6 linked regions of the Homo sapiens genome follow. The protein of the gene in region 3 purifies or fractionates together with the protein of the main gene of each other region. This does not show direct contact. Each region holds a gene or a part of one and is shown on either strand. Other genes may lie near its edges. The genes, in order: KIF11, SPIN1, NUTM2F, MAGED2, NUDT5 and DNAJC3.

Region 1 (3,500 bases), on a different chromosome or scaffold from region 3:
AGGAGCTGGGACTACAGGCGCCTGCCATCTCTCCCGGCTAATTTTTTGTATTTTTAGTAGAGACGGGGTTTCACCATATTAGCCAGGATGGTCTCCATCTCCTGACCTTGTGATCTGCCCGCCTTGGCCTCCCTAAGAGCCGGGATTACAGGCGTGAGCTACGGAGCCCGGCCTTGAGTTACTTCTTACTTTTAGCTATTATGAATAATGTTGCTATGAATATGGGTTTTCAATTCTTTTGGGTATTTACCCAGAATTGTAATTGCTGGATCATATGATAATTCTATTTTAAAGTTTTTGAGGAACCGACAAACTATTTTCCACAGTGGCTGGACCATTTTACATTCCTACCAACAGTGCATAAGGGTTCCAATTTCTCCACATCCTCACCAACGTTTATTTTCTGTTTCTTTTTTTTTTTTCAAGTAGCCATCCATTGGGTGTGAGGTGCTATCTCATTGTAGTTTTGATTTGTATTTCCCTAATGATTAATGATGTTGAGCATCTTTTCATGTGTTTACTGGCCATTTTGTGTATCTTTGGAGAAATGTCTGTTTAAGTCCTTTGCCCATTTTTAAATTGGTTTGCTTTTTTGTTGTTGAGTTTTAGGAATTTTCTATATATTTTGGATATTTTCAGATACATAAACGGCAAAAATTTTTTCCCCATTACTGTGGTTTGCCTTTTTACTCATTGATACCGTGTGGTCTTTTCCTTTCTTTTTCTTTTTGGAACCAGTGCATGGCCTCTTTGTTGATTCTGTGTTTGGCCCCAGTGCAGCCTGTTCTGTGCTATGTGTCTGCAGTGCTGAAACCAGGCCTACCCAGCACCATACAGAAGTCCAGGCTGTAGATACCAATGCATGGGTCACATTTGATACCCAAATCTGTGTGTTCCTGGATCTCCAAACCAAAGTTTCCAGTATCTGAGAAGTTGTTCTTTCTTGATTCACACTCCTGCATCTTTAGACCTTTCTTCAGGGTTTCTTCTGCTTTGGCCCTTTGTGCAGTGGGTGGCAATCTTCACTTCTCCTGATGCCAAAGGATCTGACAATGTATTTGACTTTGGAGAACACAGGGGTCTGGCCTATGAGCTGCTCCAACACCTTGGCTGCTGGGGTCAGTCATCTCCAGTCTCCTCCATACAGATGTTGAGACAGAAAATCGTTCTGTCACCCAGGCTGGAGTGCAGTGGCACAGTCTCGGCTCACTGTAACCTCTGCCTGTCAGGTTCAAGCAATTCTTATGCTTCAGCCTCCCAAGTATCTGGGATTACAGGTGTGCACCACCATGCCTGGCTAATTTTTTGTATTTTTAGTAGAGATGGGGTTTCGCCTTGTTGGCCAGGCTGGTCTTGAACTACTGGCCTCAAGTGATCCACCCATTTTGGCCTCCCAAAGTGCTGGGATTATGAGTGTGAGCCCTCATCTGGCCAGAGTTCTCTTTTTTTTACCTTGATCTTGCACTATGATGGAGAAAAGGAAGATAAAGTCTTTTTTTTTCCCTTGGGTTTGTTTGTTTGTTTGTTTGTTTGTTTTTTGAGACGGAATTTTGCTCTCGTTGCCTAGGCTGGAGTGCATTGGTACGATCTTGGCTTACTGCAACCTCCGCCTCCTGGGTTCAAGCCATTTTCCTGCCTCAGCCTCTAGAGTAGCTGGGATTACAGGCATGCGCCACCACGCCTGGCTAATTTTGTATTTTTAGTAGAGATGGGGTTTCACCATGTTGGTCAGGCTGGTCTTGATCTCCTGATCTCAGGTGATCCGTCCACCCTGGCCTCCCAAAGTACTGGGATTACAGGCGTGAGCCCGTGCCTGGGCTATTTTTTTTTTCTCCCCTTTAAATATAGTATCTTGCTTTATTGCCCAGACTTGTTGTGAACTCCTGGACTCAAATAGTCCTCCTACCTCAGCCTTCCAGGTAGCTGGGATCACAGGGATGCTGTCTTTTGATACACAAACATTTTAAATTTTTATGAAGTCCAGTTTGTCTTTTTGTTTTTGTTCCCTGTATCTTTGGTGTTATATCCAAGAAATCATTGCCAAATCCATTGTTGTGAAGCTTTTGCCTTATGTTTTCTTCTAAGAGTTTTATAGCTTTAGGTCTTACATACATTTTTGATCCATTTTGAGTTAATATTTGTATATTGTGTTAGATAAGGGTCCAACCTCATTCTTTTGCATATGGATATTTAGTTTCCCAGCACCATTTGGTGAAAAGCTTGTCTTTTTCTGATTGAATGGTCTTGGCAACCTTATTAAAAATCATTTGCTCATATGTAAGAGGGCTTATTTCTAAGTGCTGTTATGTTCCATTGGTCTATAAGTCTGTCTTTATGTCAGTACCACATGGTTTTGATTATTGCAGCTTTGTAGTAAGTTTTGAAATCAGGAAGTGTGAGTCCTCCAGCTTTGTTCTTTTTCAAGATTGTTTTGGCTATCTGGACTCCCTTGGGATTCCATATGAATTTGAGGATGAATTTTTCTATTTTTGTAAAACACGTCATTGGGATTTTAATAGGGATTACATTGAATCTATAGATCACTTTGGGTAGTATTGGCATCTTAACAATATTAAGTCTTTCAGTTCATGAACAAGGGATGTGTTTCCATTTATTTATGCCCCTTAATTTCTGCCAGCAGTTTTTTTTTGTTTGTTTTTGTTTTGAGATGGAGTTTCGCTCTTGTTGTCCAGGCTGGAGTGCAGTGGCACAATCTTAGCTCATTGCAACCTCCACCTCCCGAGTTCAAGTGATTCTCCTGCCTCAGCCTCCTGAGTAGCTGGGATTACAGGTATGTGGCACCACGACCAGCTAATTTTTGTATTTTTACTAGAGACAAAGTTTCACCATGTTGGTCAGGCTGGTCACGAACTCTTGACCTCAGGTGATCCACCCACCTTGGCCTCCCAAAGTGCTGGGATTATAGGCGTGAGCCACTGCGCCTGGCCTCAGCAGTGTTTTATAGTTTTCATTTTATAAGTCTTTCACCTCCTTGGTTAAATTAATTACTAATATTTTATTCTTTTTGGTGCTATTTTAAATTGAGTTGTTTTTGTAATTTCCTTTTTAGATTGTTCATTCTTAGTGTATAAAAATGTAACTGGAGGCTGGACGCAGTGGCTCTCACCTGTTATCCCAGCACTTTGGGAGGCAAGGTGGGCCTCCCAACTCCTGATCACGAGATCAGGAGTTCAAGGCCAGCCTGGCCAACATAGTGAAACCCTGTCTCTACTAAAAATACAAAAATTAGCCATGCATCGTGGCGCGTGCCTGTAGTCCCAGCTACTTAGGAGGCTGAGGCAGGAGAATCGCTTGAACCTGGAAGGTGGAGGTTGTGGTGAGCCAAGATCGTGCCACTGTACTCCAGCCTGGGCAACAGAGTGAGACTCTGTCTCAAAAAAAAAAAAAAAGAAAAAAGAAACGTCGCTGGATTTTGCTTGTTGACTTTCTATCCAGCTACTTTGCTGAATTCACTTATTAGTTCTAACAGTTTTTTTTTG
Region 2 (3,500 bases), 5.9 Mb from region 3:
GGACTACAGGTGCCCGCCACCACGCCCGGCTAATTTTTGTATTTTTAGTAGAGACGGGGTTTCACTATGTTAGCCAAGATGGTCTCGATCTCCTGACCTCGTGATCTGTCCGCCTCGGCCTGCCAAAGTGCTGGGATTACAGGCGTGAGCCACCGCGCCTGGCCTATTTAATGTATTTTTTAACATGTAGAACATTTATGTGAACATTTATGTAGTTAAAAAATCTGATCTGTGTTAAAAAGTTATGTTCACAGCTTCACTTTAATTCTGTTCCTCCACGAATTTCTCTCTTGCCCCAGTTGTTTTTGCTTTGTTTTTCTGATATTTCATTTTTGCAAATGTAAGCATATGTGTATATTTTTGTTTCCCTTTCCTACACAATAGGCAGCGTTCTATGCACACTGCTCTGCCGTTCTATGCACACTGCTCCCTTTTACTTAATTTATTCTGGAGAGCGCTTCATTGAAGTGCGTGCTTGCAACTCATCTCCTAATGATGAACATTTGGGTTGTTTATATTCTCTTGGCTGTTATAAATATTGCGGCAATGAATAACCTTGTGGGTATATTGTTTTTTATTTGTGCAGATACAGCTTTAAGATAGATGTGGGGTGAAAGGTAAACACATTTGTAGTTTTGTTAGTGTCAAAATGTTACATTTTCTTTTTAAAACTTTTTAATTTTTTGTAGAGATGAGGTCTCACAGTGTTGCCCAGGATGATCTTGAACTCCTGACCCCAAGCAGTTCTTTTACCTGGGCTTCCCAAAAAACTTGGGATTACAGGCGTCAGGCATCAATACAGCCTAAAAAAATTACATTTTCAGGCTCAGTGTGATGGCTCACACCTGTAATCCCAGCACTTTGGGAGGCTGAGGTGGGCCGATCATGAGGTCAGGAGTTCAAGAACAGCCTGACCAACGTGGTGAAACCCCATCTCTGCTAAAAATACAAAAATTAGCCTGGCGTGGTGGCGCGTGCCTGTAATCCCAGCTACTCGGGAGGCTGAGGCAAGAGAATCACTTGAACCTGGGAGGCAGAGACTGCAGTGAGCTGAGATTGCGCCACTGCACTCCAGCCTGGGTGACAGAGGGAGACTCCGTCTCAAAAACAACAGCAACAACAACAAAAAAACCCGTCTCTACTAAGAATACAAAAATTGGCCAGGCATGGTGGCCTGCGCCTGTAATCCCAGCTACTCCTCATGAGAGTCACTTGAACTTGGGAGGTGGAGGTTGCAGTGAGCTGAGATCGCGCCATTGCACTTCAGCCTGGGTGACAGAGTGAGACTCCATCTCAAAAAAAAAAAAATTACATTTTTAAAAGGCAGATCTGACCATGTCAGCTTTTTACTTAAAACTCTAAATGGTGGCCAGGTGGGTGCGGTGGCTCACACCTGTACTGTACTCCCAGCACTTTGGGAGGCTGAGGTGGGCGGATTACCTGAAGCTGGGAGTTTGAGGCCAGCCTGGCCAACATGGTGAAACCCCGTCTCTACTAAAAATACAAAAATTAGCCAGGTGTGGTGGCGCATGCCTGTAATCCCAGCTACTCAGGAGGCTGAGGCAGGAGAATTGCTTGAACCTGGGAGGCGGAGGCTGCAGTGAGCTGAGATCACACCCCTGCACTCCAGACTGGGCAACAGAGTGAGACTCCGTCTCAGAAAACAAAACAGAAAAACTCTAAATGGCTTTCCAGTGCCTTAAGGACAAAAGTTTATAATGTAGCCTCAAGGGTACACATATAGTTGGTGTACATATAGCTTTACATCCCTTAACAATGGGATACATTCAGAGAACCTCGTTGTGTACCTCATAGAGTATACTTACACAAACCTATATGGGACAACCTACTAGGCACCTAGGCTATGTAATATGGCTTAATGCTCCTAGGCTACAAACCTGTACAGCATATGACTGAACTGAATACTGTAGACTATTGGAACACAGTGCTGTGTAGGTATTTATTTATCTAAACATATCTAAGGACAGAGAAAGTACAGTAGAAATGTGGTATAAAAGAGAAATGGCATGCCTGTGTAGGGCACTGAACCATGAATGGAGCTGTCAGGACTGGAAGTTGCTCTGGGTTGAGTCTGTGAGTGAGTGGTGAGTGAATGTGAAGGCCTAGAACATTACTGTACACTACCGTAGACTGTATGTAAACACTACAGTTAGGCTACACTAAATTTATAAAAAGTTTCTTCAGTAATTTACCTTAGCTTACTGTAATTTTTTTAACTTAATAAGCTTTTTAACTTTTTTTTAAACTTTCTGTCTTTTTAAATAACACGTAGCTTAAAACAGCCTCATAATATGGATCCACTGTAGTATATGTGGTCTGTTGTGTTGACAGAAATGTCATTAGGTGGTGCATGACTAATTACTTTTGGGCCTCAGCCTCATCTTGTACTGTTTTTCCCCTTGCTTTCCTTTGCTCCAGTTGTGTGGGGCCTCCTTCATTCTCCTGTGCTCACCATATTCTCCACCAGGAATCTTGGCACTTGTTCTTTTCCTCTGCCTGGAATGCCTTTCTTTGTTAACAGTTATTCCTGGTCTTTAGAGTTTGGCTCAAGCATCACTTTTAATGAAATTTTCTGTGTGCGTGCTTGCACATTTTCATAAGATAAAGAGATTGGACTGTACTGATATTCATCACCGACTCCAACAAGCATCAGTTGTCTGAAGTGTTTTTTTTTTTTTCCCCAGTCTTGCTCTGTCTCCCAGGCTGGAGTGCAGTGGTGCGGTCTCAGCTCACTGCAGTCTCCACTTCCCAGGTTCTAGCAATTCTCACTCCTCAGTCTCCCAAGTAGCTGGGAGTACAGGTGCGTGCCACCATGCCTGGCTAATTTTTTTGTATTTTTAGTAGAGACAGGGTTTCACCTTGTTGGCCAGACTGGTCGCCATCTCCTGACCTCAAGTGATCTGCCCTCCTCTGCCTCCCAAAGTGCTGAGATTACAGGTGTGAGCCACCGTGCCCAGCCTGAAGTTGTTTTTTTGAGACGAGGTCTCACTCCAGTTGCCTAGGCTGTAGTGCAGTGGCACAGTTTTGGCTCATTGCAGCCTCGACCTTCCCGGACTCAGGTGATCTTCCCATCTCAGCCTCCCGCGTAGCTGAGACTACAGGCATGTGCCACCATGCCTGGCTAGTTTATTTTTGTATTTTTAGTAGAGACGGGATTTTGCCTTGTTGCCCAGGCTGGTCTCGAGCTCCTGAACTCAAGCAGTGTACCTGCCTCAGCCTCCCAAAGTGCTGCCTCAGCCTCCCACCTGTGCCACTGCACTACAGGCATGAGTCACCGTGCCTGGCTGTCTGAAGTTCTTGAATTTTTTTGACTTTTCTGCAGTCAAGTCCTCTTGGTGCTTATCAGAATTACAATGTTATATTAGTTTATGTGATTTAATTAATTTTAGTTTTCCCACAAAGGCTGAGTTTCATGAAAGCAGAACCATTCCTGTTTTTGCCTGTAATTACTTTTCTGGTATCTAGCTCAGTGTCTGAAT
Region 3 (4,202 bases):
CACTTTTTTGGGAAGAGTTACCAGATAAAGTGCAAGATCCCAGTGAAATGTGAATAGCACAGATAAAGGACAGATTTTTTTTTTTGTAAAAGTGTACTCTAAATGTCATATGGATCATAATTATAGTAAAAACTAATTCACTGTTTATCTTCAATTCAAATTCCACTTGGTATTCTTTATTCATACTTGCTAAATCTGGCCACTATGTTCTTTCATGTATTTTTAATTTTAAAAAACAGTCCAACATCTCATTCTAGCAATTTACCTACAGAAATAAAGAGAGGAACCACATTACTGGGACAAATACAGTCACTGCAAATATCAGAAGAATACTAGAACATATTAATATATTAATTTTTACCCCCAAAAAACTGAAAATATTTTTAGACAGCAAAAATAGCTTCATTATGCTTTTGATTGCATAATATATCTCTGGAAAGATGAAAAAGAATCAGATAACACCTATTTCCTCCAGGAAAGAAAATGTGGTGGCCAGAGAAAAGAGGTGGGAGGAAGGCTGGTCATTGTCTATTCCACTGTGCACAATTTGAATTTGGAACCATGCAAAAGTATTGCTTAGTTAAGTTAAAATCATGTAAAAGATACAAAATAAACATTTAACACCAGCACAATATGCTGGGAAACAAAATGAAAGGATTTCTGGTCTCGGTGCTGTAGGTCACATAGCCTCTCTTTCCTGGACTGAGTCTTCCTAAGAAAGGGGACGGGAAGTAAGGCTGGCCTACTGGTGTGGACAGATTCCAGCAACATACATGACCTGGGGGCACAAGGACTGCTTCCTAAACAATGATGAGCACACAGCCACCTAATAGCCTGGATCAGCTGAGGCCATTCTGATTTCAAACACTCAGTCCCCTTGCCTTCCTAAGAACCCCTGTGTTTCTCAGACTGAAAACGTGTTCTGAATTTTGTTAAGTAAGTGTGGCCCCTGTTGAAATTCATCAAGAGTGGGAAAGAGCCAAAGTGGGAAGGAGCATGGGTTGATTGGCACAAAAGTAGGTCTGTTGATAAAGAATGGAAGTAAAGGGGACATCAGGTAGAAGCTTTTGCTGTGAGTCAGAAGGACAATTTAAAAGTTGCCTAAAGAGGCGCACACTGTCTGTGTTGCTGCCATCCAGTTGGATGGCAACCAACTGAACCAAGGGAACCTCAGGTTCTTGCCTACTGGCCAGAGCCCTTCACAGAATGTCCCCCACCCCCGCCAAGCCCGGCTGCCCACTGCCCCTCCCCCTCTGCAGAATGTCTGGGGTCCTGTGTTCCAAACCTGTTTATATGCAAATTATCCCTGCTCCACTTGGACTCAGGAGGATCTGCTGAGTCAGGTCACTCTCTGGGTCCTGCCCTTGACTTTTTTCATTGCGGAAGCTGCCAGACAGTGGTGGTCAGTGCCCAGCCTGAGGGGATGGCTTCAAATGGAGGTGAGCCTGTAGGGATGGGGCATTATCCGAGTCTGCCTTGCCTCAACTCCTTGGGAATTCAAATTTGAACTGTCCCTGGGGACAGCTTATAGGGCTGATGTTGAGGGAGGGAGCACTGGATGTCCCCAGGGACATCACACCTGGGGATGGCCATGGCACCCTGAGTCTGTGGTTAGGGAGGAGGGCTCCTTAGAGGCGGACCAAGATGCCTGGGGGAATACACCGTGTAGTGGAAAGGATGGAGAGGATGGGTTGATCCTTTCTAGAGGGGGACAGGTCACGTCATTGTGTTTGTAGGGAGTGGTGGGATCGTGTTGTGCTGGTGGCCCAGGGAGAATGACGGGCAAGCCTGAGCCCTGTGCCGTGTCTTCAGGCACCTGGAAGGTGCCCTTCCATAGTGTTTAGAGGGATTTGGACTGGAGTTTTCTAGTTCTTAGAGAGGAGTGGGGAGAAGTGGTCTCAGCCAGAAAACTGTTGGGTGGGTTGGCTGTGACAGAGCATGTAGTGACAGCCTCTGGGTGGGCAAGGCTGGGGGCCACTGCAACTGCCACAGCCCAGAGCCTCTCAGCTTCCTCCCCAGAGATGGCTTCTCCGTCAGTTCAGGTAGCTGTTGGCTTTGATTTAACAGGGGTGGGGGCAGAATGGGGAAGTTCAGGCAACACAGGGCCTGGGTTTCCTGAGTTGTTCTGAATTGTTTGCCCTTTGGTGGAAGCTCAGGTCTTCAGACCCACTTCCTCTCGTCAGCTAGCTCATGGCCCGTCCTCTGTACTTTGTGTTACTGTGGAGGTGAAGAATTTGCTCCTGTTCCATTTATACTACCTCATGAACGGGCGACAGGTGTGGATTCTTGCTGGTTCTCAGTGGAAGGCTCTGAAAAGGCTGGTTTCCTTTTCAGTAGAGGAAGGAGAGTAGCGCACAAATAGGAAGACAGTCCTATTATTATTATTATTCAAACTAGGATGTGTGTCCTGACTGATGAGGTGCATGTGCTGTATCCCTTATTCCCCTTGGCTAGAGACTGCATGAGGTCCTAGTGAACAGGGATGAGTTCCAGACAACTCTGCCTCACCTGGCCTGTGGCCCAAGAACCCCTGGTTCTTCGTTGGTCCCTATGTTCAGTTACTGGGAGCTCAAAGGAGAAGGACCAGAGATGGGCTCCCTGTCCCACTATTTAGTGTAACATGACTAGCAGCTGTGAAAATCCCTGGCCGGGCGCGGTGGCTCACGCCTGTAATCCCAGCACTTTGGGAGACCAAGGCATGTGGATCACGAGGTCAGGAGTTCAAGACCAGCCTGACCAATATGGTGAAACCCCGTCTCTACTAAAAATACAAAAATTGGCTGGGCATGGTGGCGGGCGCCTGTAATCCCAGCTACTCAGGAGGCTGAGGCAGGAGAAGTGCTTGAACCTGGGAGGCAGAGGTTGCAGTGAGCTGAGATCGCACCACTGCACTCCAGCCTGGGTGACAGAGCGAGACTCCGTCTCAAAAAAAAAAAAAAAGAAAAAAAAGAAAATCCCTAGACACCTCCCCTGATAGCCCTGCTGCTCACCATTTGCTGGCTGTGTTCTAGTCATGTGCAGCTGTTGCTGGCTACACAATGACAATATCTCAGGGGACTCCACCACTGCTTCTCAGATCTGCTCCCTGGGAACTGAGCTTCCTGAGTGGCAGCTGGGACCACTGAGCACTGAGGAATGGGTGGCCTGAATCTGACCCCTATTTAACACTTGTGTGGGTGGTGCCAGGACAATCACTTGCATGCTGGGCGTGATGTGTTATGGGTTATCTTCAGGGTTCCTAGGGCACTGGCTTGGGTGAGTTTCCATCCAGTGGTTTTCTTTTTTTTTTTTTTTTTTTTTTTTGAGACGGAGTCTCGCTCTGTCACCCGGGCTGGAATGAAGTGGCACGATCTCGGCTCACTGCAGCCTCTGCCTCCTCGGTTCAAGCAATTCTCCTGTCTCAGCCTCCTGAGTAGCTGGGATTACAGGCACGCACCATCAGCTAATTTTTGTATTTTAGTAGAGACGGGGTTTCACCACGTTGGCCAGACTGGTCTTCAACTCCTGACCTCAGGTGATCCACCCGCCTGGGCCTCCCAAAGCGCTGGGATGACAGGCATGAACCAGCACGCCCGGCCTATCCAGTGGTTTTCTTTTGTTGTGTTGAGCTAGGAAAGAAAGGGGTTTACAAGAGCTTCAGGGAAAGGAAGACTGAAGAGGAGATGGGGCCATAATATTCGGAAACTTCTGGTTTCCTGTCGGCCTTCTGAATGCCGAGCACTGCCCTGGGGTAGGCCCCTCACCTGCTGCTGAGCACACTGAGAGCCACCAAGCCACCGAGAGACTCATCCCTGACCCATGGCTTGGGAGATGCCTGTGAGGCTGGTGCAGTCTGCCAGGGACACCCGAGGGAGACCCTCAGAGACAGCAAAGGCTTGGCTGTTTCTTCTTGGCAGACAAGGGTCAGGGAGTCTTGGTGACTGGCGCCAGGCTCTCTAGTGGAGCGACTCTGCCGTGGAGGAACAGAGCATCTGATGCACACTCAGGGACACTTGCAAGCTGCAGAGTTTCCCTGTCACATGCCCTCAGCTGTTGGGACTCCCCTGATTCCCCAGTGACTAGTGTGGACCTGGAGACGCCAGCTCATTCACCTCTTTCCTTTGTCTCCACAGCATACCCAGTGCTGGGACCCGGCGTGACCGTGAACCCTGGCACCTCCCTGTCTGTGTTCACGGCTCTGCCCTTTGCCACACCCGCTCCCG
Region 4 (2,886 bases), on a different chromosome or scaffold from region 3:
GATGCATGTGTCTATGTGTGTATGTATTTGCATATTTGCATGTATGCAGGTGGGATTATTCCTTGGGCGGTGATGGGAAACAGGAGCAGCACATGTTTCCTGATCTGTTACATATACCTCAACATTTGTCTTGAGACCAGTTCTGCAAGGGAGGGATTATCATTACCATCATTGTACGTATGCAGAAACTGAGGTTTAGAGAGGTGAAGTCATTTGGTCAGGGTTACACAGGTAGCAAGTAGAAGAGTTATGTTTAGAACTTGGCTCCAAAGCCTTAGTTCTTTTTATTCTGCTAACTAGAGCTTCATAGAAATTAATTTCCGTAAAGAAATGACATAGAATGGTAGCTTCAGGCAACCAGGTACCATGCTGGGGAGTTGACTTGTACATCTCATTTCATTTTCATAACTACCCTGCAGCTGTCATCCCATCCCCGTTTTACAGTTGAGGGACCTGGGGCTCCGAGAAGGGAGATCTGAGCATGGCCCACAGCTGGTATGGGCCTGGAGCCCAGTCCTCTTGAATTTCTGGCCAAAGCTCACCTATCCTTGGTCCTTGGAGGACATGCAAACACTCACACAGCCACACGCATGTGCACACAGAAACACACACAAAGGGTCAGGAATTCAGCATGTGTGAAGCATGCTGCTATTGGCTGTTCTTCCTCTGTAGTCTTTCTGGTCATTTTCTGTGGTGGACCTTTCTGGGCTTGGCCAGGCTGAGGCCAAGACACTTGCAGTGGGGTGTGCTCAGAGCAGGGGGCCCAAAGAATGGCTCCTCTGTTTACAACACACCCAACAGGAATCTGGGGTCATTGTGATGAGGGCGTCAAACTTGTGGCTTCCCTATGAACAAACGTCCCCCAACACCTCTATGTGGCTTCTGGGCAAGACCAGTGGGACAGGGCTCAATATTGGAAGAAAGACTGTAGTAATTAGTGGATGATGTTGCCATCTGGAGCCTGTCCAGTCTATGCATGGGTAGGCCATGAATGGTCTTAGAAATAAAGGCTTTGAACCTCTCTTTCCAAGGTACCTGGACTATGCCAGAGTCCCCAATAGCAATCCCCCTGAATATGAGTTCTTCTGGGGCCTGCGCTCTTACTATGAGACCAGCAAGATGAAAGTCCTCAAGTTTGCCTGCAAGGTAATTGGAGAGCTCCTTGAGCTTGGCAAGTCAAGAGCATGGGGTGCCCCTGGCTGGGGCAGGCTGTGTGCAGAGCAGCCTGCAGTTCAAATCTGAATGTTTTGGTGCTTCTGTTAATTGTCAAAACACTGTAACAGGCACTTTATCTGAATCATTTAAGCCTTACAACCTGATATGTCATTGCCCTGTTACAGATGAGAAAACCGAGGCCCAGAAAGGTTGGTAGGTGACATGTCCAAAGTCATGGGGCTAGGAAGTGTCAGAGCAGGGATGGAATATTAGGTGCATAATTACTGGTAATACTGTATTATTACTATTATCTTTTTATACTAAGCATGTAGCATAGTGCCTAGCATAAAGGTAGATGCTTAATCCTCTTATGCTCCTTCTGATGGTTATTTACATAGTAATACTGTATTATTACTATGGCTTAATCCCTCTATGCTCCTTCTGATGGTTATTTTTGTTTCAGGTACAAAAGAAGGATCCCAAGGAATGGGCAGCTCAGTACCGAGAGGCGATGGAAGCGGATTTGAAGGCTGCAGCTGAGGCTGCAGCTGAAGCCAAGGCTAGGGCCGAGATTAGAGCTCGAATGGGCATTGGGCTCGGCTCGGAGAATGCTGCCGGGCCCTGCAACTGGGACGAAGCTGATATCGGACCCTGGGCCAAAGCCCGGATCCAGGCGGGAGCAGAAGCTAAAGCCAAAGCCCAAGAGAGTGGCAGTGCCAGCACTGGTGCCAGTACCAGTACCAATAACAGTGCCAGTGCCAGTGCCAGCACCAGTGGTGGCTTCAGTGCTGGTGCCAGCCTGACCGCCACTCTCACATTTGGGCTCTTCGCTGGCCTTGGTGGAGCTGGTGCCAGCACCAGTGGCAGCTCTGGTGCCTGTGGTTTCTCCTACAAGTGAGATTTTAGGTATCTGCCTTGGTTTCAGTGGGGACATCTGGGGCTTATGGGGCTGGGATGAGGAGCTGGATGATTCTAGGAAGGCCCAAGTTGGAGAATGATGTGGAGAGTGTGCCAAGACACTGCTTTTGGCATTTTATTCCTTTCTGTTTGCTGGATGTCAATTGACCCTTTTATTTTCTCTTACTTGTGTTTTCAGATATTGTTAATCCTGCCAGTCTTTCTCTTCAAGCCAGGGTGCATCCTCAGAAACCTACTCAACACAGCACTCTAGGCAGCCACTATCAATCAATTGAAGTTGACACTCTGCATTAAATCTATTTGCCATTTCTGAGTTTATTGCTTTTTTTGGCGGGCTGTCACATTTTGGTATCACATTTAAAAATCAGTGAGTTGGGAAAGTTTCCACCTCAGTCTGTGTTTAGTTTGAGGTGATATTGTTGGATTCCCAGGAGCGAGATTAACACACCTTTCTGGGATAGATTGGGCCTCACGTCTAATTGTTGGATTCCCAGGAGCGAGATTAACACACCTTTCTGGGATAGATTGGGCATCACGTCTAGCCTTCAGGGTGGTGGGATTTTAGTGGGGTGGAGTTCAAGAGATTGTAGTTACAGAGGACACACTTTGAAGGAGAGGCTTGAGGTCGGCAAGTCTAGAGCAGAAAGTGTAAGTAGAGGAGACTGGACATCAAATATAGAATCCCTTTTTGAGAAATTTGAATGAGGAGAGAGAGGGGTACAGAGCTAAATGGAGATACAGGAACAAGGGAGCATTTTCTTGGGGAAGGAGAGAGAGACTTGAGTAGGGAGGAGTCAACGGAGAGGGAGAAGT
Region 5 (3,500 bases), on a different chromosome or scaffold from region 3:
GTTCACGCCTGTAATCCCAGCACTTTGGGAGGCTGAGGCTGGTGGATCACCTGAGGTCAGGAGTTCGAGGCCAGCCTGCCCAACATGGCAAAACCCCATCTCTACTAAAAATGTAAAAATTAGCCGGGTGCAGTGGTAGGAGCCTGTAATCCCAGGTACTCGGGAGGCTGAGGCAGGAGAATCGCTTGAATCCGTGAGGCAGAGGTTGCAGTGAGCCGAGATCATGCCTTTGCACTCCAGCCGGGCAACAAGAGCGAAACTCCATCTCAAAAAAAAAAGTTTACCTAATAAATTATCATCTATGGTACTTTCAAAGGAATAAGTGCCTGTTTTCTTAGTAGGGCTGCAGGTTTCAATATGCTAATGTCTGTCTCTAAATATTTAAACTTCTACGTGGTTTACTTCCTTATTGCTTTCAGGTCTCCATTCAGAAGTCACCAAATTAAACAGGCCTTGCCTGATCACTCCGTGTAGATTACTCTTCCCATCTTCCCCACACTTCTCATCCTTTTTAATCTTTCTTCATGAAACGCTGAGTCACTTGACATAAATTTTGTGTTCTTCCTCACTGTTTTTCCTTTCTCCTCACTGGAAAATGAGGTCCGGGGGAGTGAGGGTCTTTGTCCCTCTCACCACCACTTTTTTTTTTTTTTTTTTTTTTTTAGATGGAGTCTTGCTCTGTCGCCAGGCTGCAGTGCAGTGGCACGATCTCAGCTCACTGCAACCTCCATCTCCTGGGTTCAAGCCATTCTCCTCCCTCAGCCTTCCCTGTAGTTGGGGCTACAGGCGCACCCCACCACGTCCAGCTAATTTTTGTATTTTTAGTAGAGACAGGGTTTCACCATGTTGGCCAGGATGGTCTCCATCTCTTGACCTCGTGATCCACCCGCCCTGGCCTCCCAAAGTGCTGGGATTGTAGGCGTGAGGCGTGAGCCACCGCACCCGGCCTCACCGCCACTTTCCTAAAACATCATCTCACCTTTCACAGGTTGGCCACAAGGGTTACCTATGATAGTCAATCAGATATTTGATTTGTAAACGCACTTTATGAATATTCATACAGTTGGTTTTGTTATTGATTGTATTTTAGAATAGGGAAGCTTGCTGTCTTGGGGACAAATTGAAGATCAGATGGGTAGTATGATCACTTTGGGTCCCAGAAGAAACAAAGAGCAGACTCACTTTTTCCTTTAGGACAGTTGGGAAGAGAGTTGATGCTGGGTGGGCTGTATTTTCTTTGAAGCCGAAGTTAGGTGGGGTAGGTTAGAGAACCGTGGAACGTAAGAGTGCAGTGGCGTGATCTCGGCTCTCTGCAACCCCCAACTCCTGGGTCCAAATGACCCTCCTGCCTCAGCTTCCTGAGTAGCTGGGACTACAGGTGCCCACCACCACACCCGGCTAATTTTTTTATTTTTTATTTTTGTGGAGACAGGGTTTTGCCATGTTACCCAGGCTGGTCTCAGACTCTTGGTCCCCCAAAGGGCTAGGATTCCAGGTGTGAGCCACTGTGCCTGGTCCAAGTAACAGTTCTTAAAAGAAACAACAGAGAAAACACAGGGGAGGAAATCATCAGTGAAGTCGTTCAAGAAAAAAATTCCCTGTAAAGAAGCATAGTAAGAAGTTTCCAGATTGAAAGGACCCACTTGACTTCCCAGTACAATAACATCGACATGAAAGTGACTAACTACAAGCTTCCAGAGGAGGAAGACAGGTCACATGGCAAAAAGATCAAGAATAAGAATAGCTTTGGACTTCTCAACAGCAGCACCAGAAGTAAGACAACTAAGCAATGCCTTACAGTTTCATAGACAACTGGCTTTGGGTCTATAATTCTATATACAGCTGAATTAACAACCATGTGTGTGGGTAAGAAAAAAAGACTTTGACCTTCGGACAGGCAAGGTCCGAAAATGAAGGAATAAAGAAAGAGGAAATAATAATATACAATAAATGGGATAAGGGCCTGCTCTTTTCATAACAGAACTTGTAGTACTACTCGATCCTTTCTCTGCAACTATGACTTTGATACATGCTGAAACTTAAAAGTAAGTGGGGAGGTGGGTCCAGTGGCTCATGCCTGTAATCCCAGCACTTTGGGACACCGAGGCGGGAGGAGGATCGCTTGAGCCCGGGAGTCTGAGACCAGCCTGTGAAACATAGTGAGACCCCACCTCTACCAAAAGTTTAAAACATTAGTTGGCTGTGGTAGCATGCACCTGTAATCCCAGCTACTCAGGAGGCTGAGATGCGAGGAGCACGTGAGCTTGGGAGGTAGAGGCTACAGTGAGCCATGATTTCGCCACTGCACTCCAACCTGTGCAACAGAGTGAGATCTTACATCTCAAAAAATAAGTAAGTTTAGGTGTAACAGATGGATAAAAGACTGAGAGGTGGGCATGGAGAGTGGTAAATCTTTCTTCTGTCTTCCCTTGGAAAGAGTTTAAGATTCGGAGTCAGAAAAATCAGGCTGGGCGCGGTAGCTCACGCCTGTAATCCCAGCACTTTGGGAGGCCAAGGAGGGCAGATCACTTGATGTCAGGAGGTTGAGAGCAGCATGGCCAACGTGGTGAAACCCTGTCTCTACTAAAAATATAAAAATTACCAGGCCTGGTGATGTATGCCTGTAATCCCAGCTACTCGGGAGGCTGAGGCACGAGGATCACTTGAACCCAGGAGGCGGAGGTTGCAGTGAGCTGAGATCGCGCCATTGCACTCCACCCTGGGCAACAGAGTGAGACTCTCTCAAAAAAAACAAAAAAGAAAAAAAAAAAAAGAAAAATCTGATGAAGAAGGGTGGCCTCTAAGTGCCTAGAACAGGCATGGCAGGAGCTTGGCTGTTGTGGCTGAGGGTGACTAGGACTGCTGTCACTTCCTTCCTGGCTAATCCCCGGGCCTCCCTGTTCACATTTCCACCTGCGGCAGTTCCCTCACATACTGAGACAGGCAGCGTTGATGGTAGATGAATTTTTTGCCGTTTAAGTACTTTGACTAGTGTCCTGTGGACGAATGTTTAATTCAGAAAAATAATTTTAGCCTGAACAAATCTCATTATCTTGCAGGGTGAACTTCTCACCTGAGGGCTGTAAAGACTCGTTTGAAAATGGAGAGCCAAGAACCAACGGAATCTTCTCAGAATGGCAAACAGTATATCATTTCAGAGGAGGTATAACTTGTTTTTCACTTTCCCTTCCCTCCCCCACATAAATCTGAGTTTAGCAGAAATATATAGACTGTTGTTACAATGGTGGTCTTTCATTCTTGAAGACAGTTGTAAAGATTTTTCCTACTCCCTTTTTTGGGCTCGGGCACATTTTGCTCTTGTGTGGGAGGAGTAGTGTGTCTCTCTGTGTATTAGTGAAATTGAGACTCTAGGAGATTTGGGCTCTTAACAGAAAAATTCTTAATCCTTCCTGTATTTCCCTAGATAGAAGAAGAAAGAATATATGCATTTGCGGACTCAGATATTTCATATGTAGTTGTCACAACTTGGCTGTTGATGG
Region 6 (3,350 bases), on a different chromosome or scaffold from region 3:
GGCAAGGTTAGTCAGGTCTGGCTATATTTCCACTGTTGTTTCATTTAATAAGATGGCATCTCCTCTTGAGATATGTTCTTCTTACCTTTTAAGAAGATACTATTTAAGAAGTGAACTATTCAGTCTTTGTATACTGAATGCTTTTTCCCTAAAAAATGTTAATCAAGAATATTGAATATTTATGGCACTCTTGATGCTGCATTTGAAAGCTGAAGGAATTACTTTAGATAGATAGGAATTGCTACCTTTATTCTGGAAAGGTTTTGTTTCTGCCTCAAAGCATTTTGAAGTGTTTTAACCATTAAAGGGTCTAATTTTTTTTTCTTAATGAAATCAAGCATTTTAATTCACTGTGGGAGGCATCCTGACCACGGACATCCATAACAGCAAAGCACAAATCGTTTTCGTCTGTAGTCATATCCTGAAACATAGGTGGACAAATTTTTAACTGAGAGACAAAAATCACATAGTTGAATTGAGCAGAACACTTAAGTGCTTTCTGCATCTATTTAGGAGTCTATTTCTTACCAATAAACTTGACAACGCATTTGGAAAACTAGTGAACACCTTACAGCTTTCATTTTGCTTTAATGTTTCAATTCAAGCCGGTGTAAAAATAATTTCCAAGGCATTTCTGTTTATTCTTTAGTAATCTCACTACTGGCTATGTCAGCAATATCTTTTTCAATCTGGTTCCTTTTGTATATGATGTCACTGTGACCTCTTTGAAATATAGTGATGGCTTTTACCTACTTTGAAAAGAATTTTCACATAGAGTCAGAAAAAAAAGGAAATATCAAATCACTTGCCTTTCCACTTGGAGAGCACGACAGTTGCCAACAACAAGGGGTCAAGGGCCGCACAGGAGATGTGTGGGGGCCTGGCCACCTCCCACCTGCTGCCCAGAGGCTTGTTTGCATTTTCATTTTTTCTCCACTTGTAACAACCATAGTTTCAGCTCCTAAATTCTTATCATGGATTTACTTAGTCATCTTAACTGACCTGCAGTTACTTGCCTGTTTTCAGTGAAGAGAGAGAAGCAGCTCTGGTGCCACATGCCAGTGCCATGGAGGGAAATGAATTCTCTGCAATCTGTTGTTTCGCTGATTCATGAAGAAAGTAACAACTGTTGAGTTTCAGCCTTGATGGCTGTCGGCAGTTTTCTGGTGTCCACCCAAACGGAGAGACAGTCACTCCTGCTTACCCTAATGTGTGACTGAGAAGCAGCCTGGGTGTGTAAAGAGATAGTCATTCCCCCTGCCTGTCTCACTGTAGGGTAGCATTATCCACTGTAAAACCATACTACTTTCATTTTCCCTTGGGGACTACAGGTGCCAGGTAACCTTTTTTTTTTTTTTTTTTTTTTTTTGAGACAGAATCTTGCTCTGTTGCCCAGGCTGGAGTGCAGGGACACCTCCCGGGTTCAAGCAGTTCTCCTGCCTCAGCCTCCAAGTAGCTGGGACTATAGGCACGCACCACCATGCCTGGCTAATTTTTGTATTTTTAGTAGAAATGGGGTTTCACTGTGTTAGCCAGGATGGTCTTGATCTCCTGACCTTGTGATCTGCCCGCCTTGGCCTTCCAAAGTGTTGGGATTACAGGCGTGAGCCACTGCGCCTGGCCATCAGGTAACCTTTATGGCTCTTTCAGGAAAAGTGAAATCAGAGAGGCGTACCCTAGCCACAGCTGTTGTATTCTGCTCTTCTTTCCTTTTTGGTGAGCTTCATGGGTGGAGTTATCAGTGGTCTGTACTTTGTGGATATTTTGCCCAGCAGGAAGTATTAGACACATCAGTCTAGAAGCATTGTGAAAAGGTTCCAAAACGGGAGACAAAATTTAATTCATTCCTCAGTTCTGAAAGTTTGTGCTTTCTTACCATGAATAGATGAAAACTTGAAAAAAATCTTGACAGTTTACTAATGTGAATCAGATGTAACGTACTACTAATTCTACAATGCCTTTCTCTTTAGTCAGTATTAAAAATCTTTTTTAAAGTATTGGTATGAAAACAAATTTTTGTTGCCCTGATAATGGAATTTTAAAACTACCCACAGTTTAAGAGAAAACATAACTTGGTAAAAAAGGTAGCCAATAAAACCACAATTTGAAATTGATACCATTTTCTACTCACAATGGATGATGAAAAATTTCACCTTTAAATGGGTCAGAAGTTGTCTTTGACATTTACCATGAAAAAACTACATAAAATGGCTCCCTGGTGAGGTTACAGACACGGCCCTGGTGATGGGCGTTGCAAAGTTTTCACTGAGCACACAGCAATGGTATCACCTAGAGAAGTTCACGCAACTTTGTTGAATGTAGTTGACTTTTCCAAATTTATAAAGGAAGGAAGAAGGCAAATGTTAATTTGCCAACAACGAATATCCTTTTTCTAAATCAGATCATTCCTTTTTTGTTAGTGGCAGTTTATCCTGTAATTTCAAATGACGTTAAGAGGTGGGATTATTTGGGGGTTTTTTTTGTTTGTTTACAGATGATCTCATTTGCTGAATGATTGATTTAAGAGTAAAATTAGCCACTGCGTGGCTTTGTGTATAGTAACCGGTTTTGTTGCACTTGTCTGTGGCTGAAACACTTACCTGCAGTGGAAAGCCGAGCAAGGAGGAGGTAAACATTGGAGATGTTTGTGAAAATATTACTCTTGCTGTGAGGTTTTAGTTTGTTTTGAATGAGAAAAGACTAAGTAACTTAATCCATCTCAATGTAGTGTTTTAATAAAAAAGGAACCTAATATTTGAAATGGGTCTCAGACATGTCTACAAATATGGGTACTATTTTTATGCCCGTGTATTTTCACATTTAATAAAAATATTTATGGTCATATCAGTATTTCCTTGCTTTTGATTCATTTTTGTCCTTGAGTATAAAATTCTAAGAAAGTCCGTCTTAGGAAAAGTCTATTATTTCCAGCTTTGCTTCACGCAAAACCAGTGACTGAGGTGACAAAAGGGCTCTTCCTTTACACAAGTTGACAGGGAAGGTCAGAACACACAAAGCAGAAAGGGCTAAAATAAAATCTCTTAACCCTCAAAAGTCCTAGGACAACTAAGGACTTAAAAAGTGGACAAGTCTTCCATTTCAGTGCTATTAAAATGTAACACTTAAATTGGCTTTGTCTGAAGATTTTCTCTTCTCTTTTATACCCCATTTGTACATTTCTGTTAAGGTCCTAAGTTGGGAGGAAGGAAGGACACTATAGCCTATCTATCTCAAATTTCCAGCTACAAACAGAAGGAACTGCCTTCTCAGTTAATGTATTCTGCATATCTTAAGAAAGATCCAAGGAGAGCTACGATATGTAAATGTATACAGAACTTTTCCAGAAAGCT

Evidence for each region.
Region 1: the proteins of NUTM2F (region 3) and KIF11 purify together in Homo sapiens (affinity purification with mass spectrometry; one large-scale study listed by BioGRID and IntAct). This does not show direct contact.
Region 2: the proteins of NUTM2F (region 3) and SPIN1 purify together in Homo sapiens (affinity purification with mass spectrometry; one large-scale study listed by BioGRID and IntAct). This does not show direct contact.
Region 4: the proteins of NUTM2F (region 3) and MAGED2 purify together in Homo sapiens (affinity purification with mass spectrometry; one large-scale study listed by BioGRID and IntAct). This does not show direct contact.
Region 5: the proteins of NUTM2F (region 3) and NUDT5 purify together in Homo sapiens (affinity purification with mass spectrometry; one large-scale study listed by BioGRID and IntAct). This does not show direct contact.
Region 6: the proteins of NUTM2F (region 3) and DNAJC3 purify together in Homo sapiens (affinity purification with mass spectrometry; one large-scale study listed by BioGRID and IntAct). This does not show direct contact.

Annotation. Positions count from the first base shown.
Region 1 is NC_000010.11:92,596,130-92,599,629, forward strand, and holds part of KIF11 (kinesin-like protein KIF11), read left to right. Parts: intron 1-729; exon of another isoform or gene 730-1,160; intron 1,161-3,500. UniProt on the Homo sapiens protein: Motor protein required for establishing a bipolar spindle and thus contributing to chromosome congression during mitosis. Required in non-mitotic cells for transport of secretory proteins from the Golgi complex to the cell surface.
Region 2 is NC_000009.12:88,394,944-88,398,443, forward strand, and holds part of SPIN1 (spindlin-1), read left to right. Parts: intron 1-3,500. UniProt on the Homo sapiens protein: Chromatin reader that specifically recognizes and binds histone H3 both trimethylated at 'Lys-4' and 'Lys-9' (H3K4me3K9me3) and is involved in piRNA-mediated retrotransposon silencing during spermatogenesis.
Region 3 is NC_000009.12:94,325,845-94,330,046, reverse strand, and holds the start of NUTM2F (NUT family member 2F), read left to right. Parts: upstream 1-1,402; 5' UTR 1,403-1,423; coding exon 1,424-1,439; intron 1,440-4,112; coding exon 4,113-4,202.
Region 4 is NC_000023.11:54,813,630-54,816,515, forward strand, and holds the end of MAGED2 (melanoma-associated antigen D2), read left to right. Parts: intron 1-740; exon of another isoform or gene 741-871; intron 872-1,031; coding exon 1,032-1,146; intron 1,147-1,618; coding exon 1,619-2,053; 3' UTR 2,054-2,061; intron 2,062-2,251; 3' UTR 2,252-2,386; downstream 2,387-2,886. UniProt on the Homo sapiens protein: Regulates the expression, localization to the plasma membrane and function of the sodium chloride cotransporters SLC12A1 and SLC12A3, two key components of salt reabsorption in the distal renal tubule.
Region 5 is NC_000010.11:12,185,892-12,189,391, reverse strand, and holds part of NUDT5 (ADP-sugar pyrophosphatase), read left to right. Parts: intron 1-3,059; 5' UTR 3,060-3,100; coding exon 3,101-3,163; intron 3,164-3,500. UniProt on the Homo sapiens protein: Enzyme that can either act as an ADP-sugar pyrophosphatase in absence of diphosphate or catalyze the synthesis of ATP in presence of diphosphate.
Region 6 is NC_000013.11:95,792,139-95,795,488, forward strand, and holds the end of DNAJC3 (dnaJ homolog subfamily C member 3 precursor), read left to right. Parts: 3' UTR 1-2,850; downstream 2,851-3,350. UniProt on the Homo sapiens protein: Involved in the unfolded protein response (UPR) during endoplasmic reticulum (ER) stress.